3 linked regions of the Homo sapiens genome follow. The protein of the gene in region 3 purifies or fractionates together with the protein of the main gene of each other region. This does not show direct contact. Each region holds a gene or a part of one and is shown on either strand. Other genes may lie near its edges.

Region 1 (3,500 bases), on a different chromosome or scaffold from region 3:
GATTACAGGTGTGCGCCACCACACCCGGCTAATTTTGTATTTTTAGTAGAGATGGGGTTTCACCATGTTGACCAGGCTGGTCTCAAAGTGATCTGCCTTCAGGAGACCTCAAGTGATCTGCCTGCCTACGCCTCCCAAAGTGCTGGGATTACAGGTGTGAGCCACCGCACCCGGCCTGTTCGGGCTATTCTTATGCCAAGCTTGCATGTTAAGACCGTTTGCACGCAGCAGTCACTATGCATGAGGGAAACTGAGGTAGGCCCAATATCCTGTGACTCTAGGTTCATAATGCTAGAATCAGTTTGGAGTTGGAGCGTGAGGAGGAAAATTGTCTCCTGTCTGTGCTCCCGGATCCCAAACCCTGCACCCCCATGGGCCTCTATGAGAGACTCCGCCTGTGGACTGTAATTCACACAAGCTCTCTCTTCCTCTGTTTTACTTGCTCCCTCCATGACTGGGGCGGTGGCTGTCAAAAAGACTTGAGTACACAGTCCAGCAAGTCAGCTCCAAGTGACTGAGATATGTGGGTGGTGGAAACCAGCTGAGACAGGCATGAGATGTGAGAAAGCTTGCTCTGAGTGAATGGGAGTTTTGTGTCAGTTGAAGAAACAGAAGGAAGTGGAGATGCTGTTGCACGGGGACCACTCACATCCTTGAGGGTGATGATGTTCGGGTGCTGGCCGTACCGCAGGAGGATCTCAATCTCTTCCGAGGGGTCTCTCTTGCTCTTATCAATGATCTGGAACAAACACAGCACATGGCAGTGAGGGGTCTACTTTAGGCTTTCGGGTGGTATCTGCTGGTGGACCATTGAGTTTGGATAAAGTCTGGCCCCAGGTGGCCCAATCACTACAATCTCACACCCGACCAAGAGATAACCTGAGATTGTCTGGAGATTCATGGCAAGTCCTTTCTTTGACAACTAGTGTAAGATTTACATCTACAAAGAGGAGTACAGGCTGGGCAAGGTGGCTCATGCCTGTAATCCCAGCACTTTGGGAGGCCGGGGTGGGCAGGTGGCTTGAGGTCAGGAGTTTAAGACCAGCCAGCTTGGCTAACATGACAAAACCTGGTCTCTACTAAAAATACAAATATTAGCCAGACATGGTGGTGTGTGCCTGTAATCCCAGCTACTCAGGAGGCTGAGGCATGAGAATCACTTGAACCTGGGAGGCAGAGGTTGCAGGGAGCTGAGATAATGCCACTGCACTCCAGCCTGGGTGACAGAGCGAGACTCTGTCTCAAAAAAAAAAAAAAAAAAGGAGTACAAGACTTCAGACATGAATTTTAAGGTGTTATAAGGTTGGGTGGAGACACGTGTAGGGAGCTCATGCAAGTGCCACCAAATAACAGACTGTGTCCCACCCTCGCAGTGGGCACCATCCACAACAAGCCTCCAGCCACTGTGCACCTTCTGCCTTGTTCCGGGAATTACAAACCAGCCACAAAATGAGGTGAGGCGCATGGCTCTCACCAAGAGATGCTGGGGATGGTGCGCAGGCCAGACCTGCCTTGCTGTTTAGACATATGCAAGCTCCCCTCCCCCGCCCAGCATCTGTATCCGATGTCTTAGGATAACAGATAAAGTTGCTTCAACCCCATGGAGACATATGGTTTCTGAGGACAGGGTGTTGGGATTTAAGCCTACCTTGGAAACAGGAAGTCGCTGTTGGTCCCTGGTGGCTAATCCCTCTGGAGGTGCCTAAGTCCCGCCCTTGCCGCCCCTGCTGTGGGGACGGGACCAGTGGGAGGAGGGCACCACACTCATGGGAAATTGGCAACATGCAACATGTATTTTGCAAACAACACTCAGAGCAGAAGAAAAGCGATTGGAAACACCTTCCTAACCATGATTTGTACTATTCTCACATTAGTTCAACCTAATTTTAAAATAGTCTCTATTTGGAGACCGTGCAGTCATTTTACTACTAGAATATGAGGGTGACTTGCTTTTAACTTCTATCATGTCAAAGTCTCTAGGCAGAGCTTTGCATAAAACTCTATTTCGTTAATTTTTTTTGGAGACAGGGTCTCACTCTGTTGCCTAGGTTGGAATACAGTGGTACAAGCATAGTTCACTGCAACATCAAACCCCTGGGCTCAAGTGATCCTCCTGCCTCAGCCTCCAGAATAACTAGGACTACAGAGGTGTGTGCCACCCTACTCAGCTAATTTTTAAATTCTTTGTAGAGATGATGGGGTCTTGCTGTGTTGCCCAGGCTGGTCTCTAACTCCTGGCTTCAAGTGATCCTCCTGCCTCAGCCTCCCAAAGTGCTGAGATTACAGGCATGAGCAACTACACCTGGCTATTTCTTTACTTTAGAGAACCAAACGCTTGGGTAGCATTTGACTCACTGCTCATAATCTGTCCCCTGGTCACCCTTCGTCCACTCCCCGTCACCGTTATAAAAACTCACCATAGTGCCAGTTCTCACCCCATTATAGTTTCAAAGGATGCTCTGCCACGGCCACCATTCAGCTGTGACTGCATCAGTGGCCCATGATCTGTGAGTCCTAATAGCCTGCGTTGTAAACAGGCAGAAGAGTTAGGGTCCCTTTCTGGACATAGAATTTCTCTCCTTCTGCTGCATTTAATTCTACTGAAGTTTTAGCTAGGACACTAGGACTAATTCTATTGCCAACATAAATGCATCATTCTCAAGTAGAGACTTTTAAAACGATCATTCAAGGAGGGGTGGGGGACTTTCCCTAACATGCCACAGCCTAAGCAGGTCCTGGGAGGCTGGTCCTGCACTGCTTGTAGGGAAGCTGGCTGTCAGGTACCCAAACTCCTCTGCTCCTGTCTGCCTGTGGGCATCCCGTCTATCGGGGCCGGGATCCTGTCTTTGCAATTAGAGAAGGTTAAAATACATTTATAAATTTATAAAAGAATTCAGTAGAAGATTTTTTCGCAAATATGATTTCATGATAAAGGGATGTGTTCTTAGCATGAATCTGTTTTATCACTCTCACAGTGGAACAAGATGCAGAGTAAACAAGAAAGTGGGAGCTTTTTCTCCACCGCCACGGACCATCTTCAAGATACAAGGAGTAAAAAAGGCCGACGCGAGCAGGTGCATCCTACGCCATCCCTTGTTTTAAAAATGGAGAGAAGAATGCAGATAGACGCATCCATTTCCTTGTGGGTGCATAAAATAACCCTGGAAGGAAGGAGGAAACATTTAATTGCCTTGCCTTCCTGTGAGGAGGGGAACAGGGTGCCTGGGGGCCCATGGGTGGGAGGGAAACTTTGCTGTATCCACATGAATTTTTAAAAATTTTGAACCACAAGAATATATTGTCTATTCAAAATATGAAATAAAGAATTCCAAAATTTCAGCTTACTATTTTGTAAGCTGAAATTGCAGGACAACGTGACTATTATTTTAAAGAATCTGGGACTACAGATGGCTGCCCTCTCAACCCTAGTATCTATTTTATTTCTATGTGTTCTTTTGTTGTGAGTCTTCAGAAAAATTCTGACTTACAATGATAAGTAT
Region 2 (3,726 bases), about 180 Mb from region 3:
TAGGACAAATGACATTGGAAACAAAGTTAAAAGAAAAATGACAGACTGGAAGAAAAGATTGGCACACATAACAGATGAAAGTGATCATCCTTGCTAAATTAAGAGCTTCCATAACTCAAAGAACCAATGAGAAAAGTGGACAGAGGATGAGCTGCATTCAGCTCTGGTTGGGCATCATATGGGGAAAACTCCCCAGGAATGAGCATGAGTCCCAGCCCAGTCCTGTTGTTGGCTAGTGGTCCCTTTGGAGACCACTGGGCAAGGAGCTATGGGCTTTCCAGTCAGTACTTCTGCCCTCAGACCCAGAGGCCTCTGTGTACTCTCCCAGGACTGAGACTCTGTCCTTTTTCTCTCTGCAGAAATCTGCCCTGATTGTCCAGGGGCCCCGGGAAGTGAAAAAGCGGGAGCTGGTCTTCCTCCAGTTCCGCCTGAACAAGAGTAGTGAGGACTTCAGCGCCATTGATTACCTCCTCTTCTCTTCTTTCCAGGAGTTCCTGCAAAGGTGGGCTTTTAGAGTTCACAGTGGGCTTACTGTCTACTTTTTATCTTATTCCAGCTGTGTATGTCCCAAGGCTAGAGACGGAGGGGTGAGGGCAGGGAAGGGAAGGGGCATTCTCAGATGACCCACTGGCCCAGGAAGGGACCTCATGAGCTTGGCCGGTCCACTCAACATCTTATCACAAAGTTAAGCAAATCTGGTGTGGAGGAGCATGCTGGCTCTCCATGCACATAGTGCTGGCTGGTTCTAGAGAGATCATTTGGTCTCACCATTGCCTGGGGCTGCTGAGGAGTAGGGGAAGTTGCCTTTGATTTGTAAGTCCCTTTGAGAGCAAGTTCTTGTGTGGTTCCTTGGTTTCCCCCACAGTGTGCACAGGAACCACATCTTGCCCTTAGTGCGGGCTTAATGTATGTTTGCCTGAAATACAGTTGGTCCTTGAACAACTTGGGGTTTGGGGTTACCAAACTTAACCACTCCTGCCTATGCAGCCAAAAATTTGTGTATAACTTTTGACCCCCAAAACTACTAACAGCCTACTGTTGACAGAAGCCTTACCAATAACATAAACAACACATATTGCGTGGTTATATATATCATAGACTGTATTCTTACGATAAAGTAAACTAGAGAAAAAAAATGTTATTAAGAAAATCATGGCCAGGTGTGGTGGCTCACACCTGTAATCCTACCACTTTGGGAGGCCAAGGTGGGCGGATCACGAGGTCAGGAGATCGAGACCATCCTGGCTAACATGGTGAAACCCCATCTCTACTAAAAATACAAAAAATTAGCCAGGCGTGGTAGCGGGCACCTGTAGTCCCAGCTACTCAAGAGGTTGAGGCAGGAGAACCGATTGAACCCAGGAGGCAGAGTTTGCAGTGAGCTGAGATTGCGCCACTGCACTCCAGCCTGGGCAACAGAGCGAGACTCCAAAAAAAAAAAAAAGGAAATCATAAGGAAGAGAAAATATACTTACTATTCATTCAGTGGAAGTGATCATTGTAAAGGCCTTCATCCTCATCGCCTTCATGTTGAGTAGGCTGAGGAGGAGGTTTGGTCTTGCTGTCTCAGGAGTGGCAGAGGCAAAAGAAAATCCGCACGTGAGTGGACCCAGCCAGTTCAAACCTGTGTTGTTCAAGGGTCTACTGCATCTCTGGTATGAGGATATAAGCTCTGCCACCTCTCTTAGTCTTCGATTTACAGTGATGAATGTCCCCTGACCATCAGAAAGTTCTTGTCTGCTCCACACACACTGCTTTGGGGTCACACCGTGGAGCCTAGAGGGCAGGAGAATTTTCTTCATGTGCCTGAGTTGAGAGGGACTCAGTTCCTACCAGGTCCTGCTGAGCCCAGAGGCTCCATTCAGAGCAAGCAGGGAGGCAGCTACAGGGGCAGGGAGGCTGCTCCCCAGCTGGACATGCAGCGAGCTGCCTCCATTCCACACCACCACTGCTTTGTTCTTCCACCCCAGAGCTCGGAGCCTCTGCCTTAGCATTTTCCACCCTTTCTGCCACCTAGAATTCCCTCTCCCTTCCCTGCTTCAAGCTGGCCATCTTGCCTTCCTCCTGGAAGACTTTCCCCGGGATCCCACCCCCACTCCACGCTCCTTTCGTGAGCTTCCTCGGTATGCTGCTGCAGTTTTTACTTGTTTTTATGTTCGCTTTGATTTTGCTGCATCTGCACCGTCTTGGGGCTGATGCTGTAGGTGACCCATCTGGCTGAGACCTCCCCAAGGAACCCTCTTCCCCTCTTTGGGCCTTCCATGGGAGCTGACAGGCTGGTGAGGGCTTCCTCAGGCTCTGCTGAAGTCCAGAGTTCTCTGAGGAGCTGTGAGCGCCATGTTCTGGGGAGCTTCTGCCAACTTCATTGCCGACAGCTTTGGTAGCCATCGATAGGAATGATGGGAGGAGGGAGGAAGATTTCTCCCACTGGGAGCTTCAAGGATCATGTTCCTGCCTTGAGGCCAGTGACTACCCCTCCATTTGGAAACCAAATGGAGAGAAAAGAGGGATGGGCCTTGCTTTTGCTGGTGACTGACAGCCCTGTTGAGGCAATCACAATTTGGAGAGGAGGCAGGGAGTGGGCAGCATCCTGGTTGTGCCAGCAAAGAAACCAGCTTGCAGTGGGGGCTTCGACTCCTGCTGCCAGACCTGCATTGACCTGGATCTTCCTTCTCCTTCCTTCCTCCAAGCCCAAACAGGGTAGGCTTCATGCAGGCCTGTGAGAGTGCCTATTCCAGCTGGAAGTTCTCTGGGGGCTTCCGCACCTGGGTCAAGATGTCACTGGTAAAGACCAAGGAGGAGGATGGGCGGGAAGCAGTGGAGTTCCGGCAGGAGGTAGGTGGCTCTGGGTTTGCTTGAAACTGCTGGTGACTTTTCCACATTCGAGTCTGAGGTGGAGGGAAGCTTTGCAGAGAAGGCTCCTTTGAGCAGGGCCTTAAGGGTGAGTAGGCCTTGGTCAGGATGAGAAGGGACTCCCATGGAGGGCTTCATATGCTATGCCAGGGAGTCTGTGTGTGCTTCTGCAGGCAGCGCACATACCGGCCAGTCCTCACGGAATGCATGTGTGGGGCAGAGATCATTGTGGCTTGCAGAGAGGTCAGTAACTCGCCCAGCTGTGTCTGATGTCTTGCATCTAGCAGCACTTTGAGGGGCTGGCAGTGGCCTAGCAGATTGATTATTTGCAGGGAAGAGAGACTAGACACAGTGGTCCCAAGTGTGCATGTTGATCCTTTTCCTAAGGTCCTCTTCAGCTCTCACAGGTGTCACAGCGAGAGATGCCAGGTGTATCTCCTGGCTGCTAGGCCAGTGGGCTGAAAGCTTTTTGATCAGATTTCCCATTAGTAAAAACTTTTTGATCATATACTCCATATACATATAACTCTGCAGGTGATATAACATACTATTATTGTCTTAGTGTTATATACACTTTAAACATTCAAAAATAGAAATGTTAAAAGGATGAGATAAAAATAAATAGTAAAAAAAGCTAGTCTTTTCTTCTTGTATCCCAGTGGCTCGGGATGCTCATCTGGAGCAGAAGGACACACTCCAGTCAACTAGGCCATCACTGGCCAGAAGTTAGGCCGGAGAAGACTGTCTTGGGTTAGTCTTAAACAGGGCCCTGTCATGAGCCCTAGCTCCTCAGACTAGTCCAGGCTGGTTACTTGGAAGAGGCTCAAAGCCAGTTTTCTTCAAGGAAGCAAGGCTATTTTTCCTGCCTTGGGA
Region 3 (3,726 bases):
GAAGCCCTCGTTTCCCTCTTAAAGCTCTTTTCAGCCTGCACCACTGCTGCAGGGTCTCAGGGCTTGCCAGGAGCAGGGACTGGAAAGCAGGGACATTTCAAAAGGTTTAAAGCTTCAGCTGCCCTTAACTCCAAGGTCTTACCTTCCTGGGGAGCCTGAGGCATTCTTGTCTCCAGAGTGAAGCCACACCTGCCCAAGCTGGGAGCAGCCCAGACCTCCCTCCCAGCCTCTCCCTCCACAGCCCTCACCATTTTGATTTTCTTGGCAGAGTGGAGCGTGTTATATGTTATCATTGCTACCTTTGTCATTGTTGTTGCCTTGGGAATCCTGTCTTGGACTGTGATCTGTTGTTGTAAGAGGTAAGATGGATTTTCCTTTGAAATTCATTCGGGCTTCTTGTCATACATTCGTTCCTCAGAGAGGTATTTGGCACCTTCCACGTGGAAGGACTGGGCTGGGTCCTTAGTCAGCATTAGAGAGTTCTGACCCACCTAAGGCATGCACGGGCAGCTTTGCTCACCCTGAGACTCTCCTGAGGGCAGAGGCACACTCCTTCAGTGAGTGGCAGCCACTGCAGTGATTTGGAACCTGGGAAACATGGCTGGGCGGGAGCAGGGCAAGGTGGGGGAGTGAGCGTGAGGGCCAGGGGTACAGACCCGGATCACATCTGTAAGGTGTGTTTTCTTTAATGCACCACACTGTAGCCTCACCAGCATAGCCCGCGAGTTTTTAATTCTGCCTTCTTTCTAGTTGGGATTCATGAGTGTGCATGTTTCCACACATGCACTTTAGGCTAGCCAGGCTCAGGCGTCCTGTGTTTTTTCATTTGAGTCTTCCTATTGAGTCTTCTAAGATGGAATGGTTACATTTATTTTATGTTTTCATTATTAATAATATTATTTCTGTGTATACTGTGTGCCATAATATTTTTATAGGTAATATCATTTTTAAGACACATAACCTTTTCCCATTTTACAGATAAAAAAACTTAGGCTCAGGAAAGGTACATCACTGTCTGAGGACCAGTTGATAGTGACAGAGCTGAGATTCAACTTTCAGTATAACCTCTTATAAAACTTAGAACTAAAGGAATTTTTAAAAATTCCCACCAGTCTAAGACAACCACCATTACCAACTTTGTTAGTGTAATGCCTGTCTCCTCCCACACCCTTCAAGCAGAGGATTTTGTTTTCTTTACGTTTTTAACCAATCTGTCCTTCATTGCCCCTGTGGGATGGTGAGTCCGTGCCAAGGTGGTCATAGCTCCCTTGCCCTTCTCCAGAATTGCTGAGGAACATTTGAGGAACAAATCACAGTTGCCACCTTTCCTGGCTGAGAAGTGAGGAGAGGACACCCCTCTCAGTAGGTGCCCCACCAAAATAGGGCCCTGCATGCACATCTGGCTCTCATCCTCATCCTCCCAGAGAACCTCTTTCCTGAGCAGGGGTGGGGGTTGTGTTTTTTAGGCAAAAAGGAAAACCCAAGAGGAAAAGCAAGTACAAGATCCTGGATGCCACGGATCAGGAAAGCCTGGAGCTGAAGCCAACCTCCCGAGCAGGTAGGGGCCCTGGGTGCCAGAGCTTCTAGGTCTGTGCACTCTCTCTGTGGAAGGCTGCTGTCACTAGCCCCTCCTGAGTGTGTCACTAACAGCCCACTGTGCTTGCAAAGCATTTTGTTCCCTTTTGCCTGATGAAGACTGAGGGTCAGATTTGCCCTGAGCTGCACTGGACAAAATGCCTCCAGGACCCACTTCGCGTGCTACTTCCGCTTGGCGGGGGTGCTGGGCCTGTTGTTTTCCTTTGCCTGGGCATTCTCCTCATGTTTCCCACCTGGAGTTCCGCTTTTCCAACTGCCCCAGGTAGTCAGGGTCAGGGACCTTGGACTTGTCTCTTACTGCTGACCAGTCTGTGCTTTATGGGCAGAGATGAGACCCAGGCCCGTGTCTGCCAGCTGACCACCTTTCAGCCAGCCTTGTTCTCCTGTCTTCCTATCTTTATCATTTGGCAAGTCCTCAGCTTCTGTCAGTGTCTTAGGGCAGATAGGAGGGCATTTCCTTGCACAAACAGTAAGATGACTTTGAGTGATGGCACTGGGAGATCAGGGCAGGTAGTAGGCCTTCCTTCCTCCGCTGGGCTGGGTCACCTGGCGAGGGTTTCACTCATCATGGATGCCATGGGACAGGTATCATTGGTTTATGAGAGCTAGACTCTATAAAGCGATTCCTAAACACTCTGCAAGTAGAACTATTTTTATATAAAGCATTTATTAAACACTTTTCATGCTTAAAGCTTTGTGTTAGGGAGAGGCTATGGGGGTATAGGGAGTCATCAGACACAGGCTGTGCTCTCAGTCTAGTGAGGGAGAAAAGACACACAGTAGCAGAAGAGAACAGGCTCACAGCAGTCTGGACTCTGCACCAAGCAGCTCGATCCACCAACACTGTCAAGGTGGAGACTGGAGGTGGTGGGGCTTGAAATGAGCCCAGGAAACCAGAGCAGTGAGGGCGGGCGGGGCATTTCACCCAGGAATATTGAGAATGAGGGCCTGGAGGTGAAATGTGCAAAACCCACCCCTCACACTGCAGCCAAGGTTTTTATCATGTTACTCTGATCATGTTTTTCACCCCCTGACATTCTTCAATGACTTACTATTTCTAGCACAAAAAGCTAGAACTTTTGGTCTGGTAGATGTGGCCTTTGTGAGCTTACATCAGTTTGCTTTTCTGGAATCTTTCTCTTTGCTGATCTCCCTCTTTTCTAAACAAGTTCTTCTGGTTCATCCAGTAATCTCTTTCTTTTTTAAAAATGTGGCGACAAGGTCTTGCTCTGTCACCCAGGCTGGAGTGCAGTGGTATAGTCATAGCTCACTGCAACCTCCAGCTCCTGAGCTCAAGTGGTCCTCCTGCTTCAGCCTCCCAAAGCAGCTGGGACTACAGGCATGCACCACCATACCCAGCCCTAGAAAGCTCTTTCTTATCCCTCCCTTAACCTCCTCAAGTTGTGCTCACCTTTCTCTCACATGCCTGGGTCGGCATTTCTCTCGCTGTCTCATGATTAGTTATGTTTGCCTGTCTCCCCACCCATCAGTGAAATCCCTGAGGGCAGGGGCTGTCTCATTCATCTGTGGATATGGAGCGGGACCACTATGTGCCAGGCCCTGTGCCAGACACTGCTTATATTGTGGTGAATCAAACGGACAGACTTCACTCTTGTGTAGCTTATGTCAGACAGACATTAAGCAAACTCACAAATACATAAAATATGCTCATAAAAGGCCTTTATGAAGAAAAACACTTAAGCTGAGACCTGGATAAGTGGGAGCTAGCCAGATAAAGCTGCAGGAAATAGCATTCCAGGCAAAGGAACAAAACTGGTGCAGACCCAGCTGCTAGAAGGAGCAGAGAGCATTTGAGGAGGTAGAAGAAGGTGACATGATGGACAGGTTCACCTTCCCACAGAGTAAGGGGTGAGTGACCCAAGGCTCAATGGATGAGCAGGGTCCCTGCTGAGGACTTCTCTTGAGTACAATGGGGAGCCACTGATAGCTTTTTAAGGGGATGAATGGTGGGATTTGGTTTACATTTATTATTATTTGAGACAGAGTCTCACTCTTATCACCCAGGCAGGAGTGCAGTGGTGCGATCAAGGCCCACTGCAGTCTTGACCTCCTGGGCTCAGGTGATCCTTCCACCTCAGCTTCCTAAGTAGCTGGGACCACAGGCATGCG

Evidence for each region.
Region 1: the proteins of KIAA0319L (region 3) and RPS6KA2 fractionate together in Homo sapiens (co-fractionation; one large-scale study listed by BioGRID). This does not show direct contact.
Region 2: the proteins of KIAA0319L (region 3) and PACC1 purify together in Homo sapiens (co-immunoprecipitation; one large-scale study listed by IntAct). This does not show direct contact.

The regions. Positions count from the first base shown.
Region 1 is NC_000006.12:166,431,752-166,435,251, forward strand, and holds part of RPS6KA2 (ribosomal protein S6 kinase alpha-2), read right to left. Parts: intron 740-3,500; coding exon 650-739; intron 1-649. UniProt on the Homo sapiens protein: Serine/threonine-protein kinase that acts downstream of ERK (MAPK1/ERK2 and MAPK3/ERK1) signaling and mediates mitogenic and stress-induced activation of transcription factors, regulates translation, and mediates cellular proliferation, survival, and differentiation.
Region 2 is NC_000001.11:212,376,671-212,380,396, reverse strand, and holds part of PACC1 (proton-activated chloride channel), read left to right. Parts: intron 1-359; coding exon 360-502; intron 503-2,690; coding exon 2,691-2,835; intron 2,836-3,512; exon of another isoform or gene 3,513-3,603; intron 3,604-3,726. UniProt on the Homo sapiens protein: Chloride channel gated by pH that facilitates the entry of chloride ions into cells upon exposure to extracellular acidic pH. Involved in acidosis-induced cell death by mediating chloride influx and subsequent cell swelling.
Region 3 is NC_000001.11:35,438,879-35,442,604, reverse strand, and holds part of KIAA0319L (dyslexia-associated protein KIAA0319-like protein), read left to right. Parts: intron 1-268; coding exon 269-359; intron 360-1,466; coding exon 1,467-1,558; intron 1,559-3,726.